2 separate regions of the Homo sapiens genome follow, and region 2 is linked to region 1. The links come from fine-mapping of genetic effects on gene expression. Tissue or cell type: whole blood. Region 1 holds a variant in brackets; the other region holds the start of a gene. All regions are shown on one strand. Distances are between the middles of the regions.

What was found. PIP is the estimated chance that this variant, and not a neighbour inherited with it, causes the effect.
Region 2: it holds the start of MINPP1, and the variant in region 1 is fine-mapped to the expression of MINPP1 in whole blood (INTERVAL, PIP above 0.99).

The regions. Positions count from the first base shown.
Region 1 is chr10:86,975,307-86,978,063 of GRCh38, forward strand. The region is part of intron 1 of AGAP11 (ArfGAP with GTPase domain, ankyrin repeat and PH domain 11); the gene reads left to right. Among named protein-coding and RNA genes, the nearest start is that of ADIRF-AS1, 5.4 kb to the left of the region's middle. The variant GTGTA/G (reference allele first, on the strand shown) is at 1,637.
Region 2 is chr10:87,503,651-87,506,150 of GRCh38, forward strand. It overlaps MINPP1 (multiple inositol-polyphosphate phosphatase 1), which reads left to right and starts at 1,243. Exons shown (of 5, transcript NM_004897.5): 1 at 1,243-1,902. The coding sequence starts at 1,266. It overlaps MIR4678 (microRNA 4678), which reads left to right and starts at 231; the gene lies at 231-304. It overlaps LOC112268064 (a long non-coding RNA gene), which reads right to left and starts at 1,184. Exons shown (of 2, transcript XR_002957094.2): 1 at 685-1,184. RefSeq lists enhancers at 1,213-1,302, 1,463-1,522.

The DNA.
Region 1 (2,757 bases):
TTTATATATATATATATATTTATTTATTTATTTATTTATTTTTTTGAGACAGAGTCTTCCTCTGTTGCCCAGGCTGGAGTGCACTGGCATGATGTCGGCTCACTGCAGCCTCCGTCTCCTGGGTTCAGGCGATTCTCCTGTCTCAGCCTCCTGTCTCAGCTCATGCCTGTAGCTGGGATTGCAGGCATGTGCCACCATGCCTGGCTAATTTTTGTATTTTTAGTACAGACAGGGTTTCACTATGTTGGCCAGACTGGTCTCGAACTCCTGACCTCAGGTGATCCTCCCACCTCAGCCTCCTGAAGTGCTGGGATTACAGTCGGGAGCCACCGTGCCCGGCCCATTATATTCTATTTTTGTGTATGACATTTTCTATTTTTAAAACGGTAAAAAAGTTAAAATAAAAATTTTATAAAAAGAAGGGCTTATGTGAACAGTATTCTGATTTTTAAATGTTTGGTTGGTATTGTTAGTCTGTAGCCTTTAGACTTTATCCCTGGCTGGGTTTGAGGTTTGTGGCTCCCTCTTCAGCTTCAGTGTCTTCTAGGTGTGGCTGCAACTGCCTTCTGGCACAGAAGGTTGAGCAGACCCTACATGTCTGATGCACACTGAAATTTCTTTTTTTATTTTTAATTTTAATTTATTATTTATTTTGAGATGGGGGTCTCACTATGTTCCCCAGGCTGGTCTCAAACTCTTGGCCTCAAGCAGTCCTCCCACCTTGGCCTAACAAAGGGCTGGGATTACAGGTGTGAGCCGCTGCACCAGCTCCCTACTGGAATTTTTTTTTGTAGAGACAGGGAGGGTCTGGCTCTGTCACCCAGATTGGAGTGCAGTGGCCTGATCATGGCTCCCTGCAGCCTCAAACTCCTGGCCTCAAGCAATCCTCCTACCTCAGCCTCCCAAGTAGCTGGGATTACAGGTGTGTGCCACCATGCTCAGCTAATTAAAACAAATTTTTTTTTGTAGAGGTGGAGTCTCACTATGTTGTCCAGGCTGATGTCAAACTCCTGAGCTCAAGTGATCCTCCCACCTCAGCCTCCCCACAGCACTGGGATTACGGGTGTGAGCCACTGTGTCCAGACTCCTGCAGGAATTTCTAATAAGCAACATGATATTTCTGGCTTGTTTTCTTTCTTTAAGTTTAAAGTACAATAATTTTTCTAGAGTTTGTCTCAATGATTATGGCTCTGGTTCATTGTTGCCTGGTGTGCAGTTTGCCCTTTGAATACTAATTCAAGGCTGGGCGTGGTAGCTCAGGCCTGTAATCCCAGCACTTTGGGAGGCTGAGGTGGGAGGATAGCTTGAGCTCGGGAGTTTTAGATCAGACTGGGTGACAGTGATACCCCATCTCTACAAAAAATAGGAAAAGTATCCAGGTGTGGTGGTGCACGCCTGTAGTCCCAGCTACTTAAGAAGGCTGAAGTGGGAGGATCCCTTGAGCCCAGGAGTTGAAGGCTGCAGTGAGCCATGATTGCGCTACTGCACTCCAGCCTGAGTGGCAGAGTGAGATCCTATCTCAAAAAAAAAAAAAAAGTATATATGTATGTGTGTGTGTGTGTATATATGTGTGTGTATATATATGTGTGTGTATATATATGTGTGTGTGTATATATATGTGTGTGTGTGTGTGTGT[GTGTA/G]TGTACCTGTGTATGTGTGGTGTATGTATACATATACATATATACCCAGAAGACAGATTGTTGGATCATAAGTTAGCTCTATATTTAATTTTTTGAGGAATCCCCATAGTGTTTTTCTTTCTTTCTTTCCTTCTTTCTTTTTTTAGACCAGGTCTTGCACTGTTGCCCAGGCTGGAGTGCAATGGCACGATCTCAGCCCACTGCAACCTCTGCCTCCTGGGTTCACGCAATTCTCCTGCCTCAGCCTCCCGAGTAGCCGGGATGACAGGCACACACCACCACACCCGCTAATTTTTTTTTTTTTTTTTAGTAGAGATGGGGTTTCACTATGTTGGCCAGACTGGTCTTGAACTCCTGACCTCGTGATCTGCCCGTCTCGGCCTCCCAAAGTGCTGAGATTACAGATGTGAGCCACCACGCCTGGCCTTCCATGGTGTTTTTCATAATGGCTATATCAATTTGCATTCCCACTAATAGTGTACAAGGGTTCCCTTTTCTCCACATTCTCACCAACACTTATCTTTTGTCTTTTTTTTTTTTTTAGAGATGAGGTCTCCCTGTGTTGCCCAGGCAGGAGTGCAGTGGCTGTTCACAGGTGTGAACATAGCACACTATGGCCTCGAACTCCTGGGCTCAAGTGATCCTCCTGCCTCAACCTCTGGAGTAGCTAGGACTATAGGCATGCACCACTGTGCCCAGCTCCTGCATAATTGTATTTTAAAATATTTGCTCTGTTCCATTGCTCAGCTTTCTTCTTTGGGAATTCCAAGTGTGAGTATGAAGTTCTTTTCTTCCTACTTTCCATATCTACTGTTGTCTCCCAAATACTGTGTATCTTTTTCATTCCTTTTTTTCTTTACTTTTTCCATTTCTGTTCTATAGGCATCTACGGTGGTATCTACCTTCTTGTGCTTCTTATCTGCCATGGTTTGTTTAGTCTTTTTTCTTCTATTCATTTCTGAGATATATTTCTCTTCTGCCTGCTCTTGCTGTCTGGCCATCTCCTCTCAGAGTTCTGGCAACTGCTTTACAGTCTTCCTTCATAACAGCTGTTGTTTATTAAGTGTCTTCTTTTCTTCCTAAAATTCATGTTGGAATGTTGACTATTCTTTTTCCA
Region 2 (2,500 bases), 530 kb after region 1:
ATTTAGAGGCACGCCTAAACTTAGAGGAACACCTCTCTAAACCAAGGAGACACTTAAAGAGAAAAGGAGTAAAGATGGTGATGGGCTTATAAAGAGCAATGTAATAGTGTCTTTGAAGCAAAAGCTAACTTAATGAAAACGTGGTCCCAATTTCCTTAAATCTGGATCACCGTACGACTTCTGTAATACTTATTATTTCCCCAGCTGGCAAATAAACTGGAGTTCAAGTGGGAAAAAACAAGGTATTGTTCAGACTTATGATTTTTGGGGTCAAAGATTCTGAGCAATAACCTATTAAAAAACCCAGCTTTTGATTTGAGTATGTAAGTAAGTACATGGGAGGAACGTATGGATCTGGAGTGGTGGTAAATACAGAGCATGTTTGCTTCGCAAAGCAGATTAGCTCATACTTAATAATAGAGTAAATCTGTTGGGCCATGACTCAATGCACCCAAATTCTCTAGATTGCTATGTCTCTACTCGCTAAGCCTTCGGGAACAACAAGCACAGAACTTTTAGGGTGCTGTCTCACTGATGTCGGCGTTAGCTCTGGTAGTCCAGGTCAAGATTATACCAAAGATTCAGGACTTAAATTCCTGCAGAATGTAAGCCCCTTTCCAAGTTCTCTGCTTTACTGTATCCTGTTTATTTTCAAACTCAAATGGAAAAAAACGAAACAAAAACCTTGGGCTTCAAGAGGCATCCTGCCGCAAGGCCCAGCGATGTGAATTTTCAACAACCGTCTCAGGCAGATTTCATGCTGATGGTTCAGGCACTAAACTTTGAAAAACACAGTATCACAGAGTAGGGATGGTGATGTAAGAGTCATCTGTAAAAGCTGTGCTGTTTTGGCAGCCTGGGAGGCTAAGGTTTAGTCTAGGCGACTAAGGTTTAGTCCGGGCTGTATTCACACCCAAAACAACTAAAAAAGCGGAGGAGTCTTTGAGTCAATCCCTGAAGCTCCGGCTAAGAGGAAACTCGCCCACGCTCCAGGGCAGCGACGCCGGCTCCACCTCAGCCACGGCTGTCTCAAGCTTCTCGGGGTTTTCCGCCGGCTCCACCCGAGCCACAAGTCTACAGGACTCCTCGGAGCTTTCCGCCGGGACGCAAGACCCACCGCCAGAGGTTGGTACCTCCTAGAGAACAGCGAAGCGCATCCCGAGGGCCGCCGGCCGGAAGCGCCCTCCAGACCCGCCCCCTGCCCTCCGGAGCCGGAAGCTGGGCATCTGCAGCTGGCTCGGCGCACTCCACTGACCGTCCCGACGATGCTACGCGCGCCCGGCTGCCTCCTCCGGACCTCCGTAGCGCCTGCCGCGGCCCTGGCTGCGGCGCTGCTCTCGTCGCTTGCGCGCTGCTCTCTTCTAGAGCCGAGGGACCCGGTGGCCTCGTCGCTCAGCCCCTATTTCGGCACCAAGACTCGCTACGAGGATGTCAACCCCGTGCTATTGTCGGGCCCCGAGGCTCCGTGGCGGGACCCTGAGCTGCTGGAGGGGACCTGCACCCCGGTGCAGCTGGTCGCCCTCATTCGCCACGGCACCCGCTACCCCACGGTCAAACAGATCCGCAAGCTGAGGCAGCTGCACGGGTTGCTGCAGGCCCGCGGGTCCAGGGATGGCGGGGCTAGTAGTACCGGCAGCCGCGACCTGGGTGCAGCGCTGGCCGACTGGCCTTTGTGGTACGCGGACTGGATGGACGGGCAGCTAGTAGAGAAGGGACGGCAGGATATGCGACAGCTGGCGCTGCGTCTGGCCTCGCTCTTCCCGGCCCTTTTCAGCCGTGAGAACTACGGCCGCCTGCGGCTCATCACCAGTTCCAAGCACCGCTGCATGGATAGCAGCGCCGCCTTCCTGCAGGGGCTGTGGCAGCACTACCACCCTGGCTTGCCGCCGCCGGACGTCGCAGGTGACCCCCCGGGCGGCCCGTGTGCTGTCCCGGTCCTCCCACCCGCCCTGGATGCTCTCCCGCCTCCCCCAGACCCTGGGCTTTTCCGATGCCCCCCAGTTCTCTTTCCTCTTTTCCCAAGCCATCATCCCTCGGGCTACGTCCTCCCTGTCGAGGGATATTACAGACTTGGCTATCTCTTTTTCCCCTTACACGTATGTTCATTTATTAATTCATCAGGTGTAAATTCAGCACCTTGTACTCGCTGCCTGCTTTAGTAGAGTTGGGGATCCAACAGGAAAGGGGACAGACGAGGTCTCCCGCAATTTTTGCGCTCCCGTTCCCAAACTGAATTGCCCCTTCGAGCGCCAACCCATCCCTTCCCCCTTCCCTGGCGTCTAGTTTCACAATTGGGCGCACGTTTTAAAAAACAGAATCTAGAATTTTCTTCCTCGGGCTTTGCTTCCGATACTAGTTTTTCCTTCTTTCTTTTTTTTTTTTTTTAAACTCATCATCTTTTTCAGATGACAGTTTTAGACCTACACCCTGTTTTAGGAACCTGATCTCAAGCCTTTGTGTCCTCCTTTTTTCTTCTGTTTTGTTCATGTTTTTACTGTAG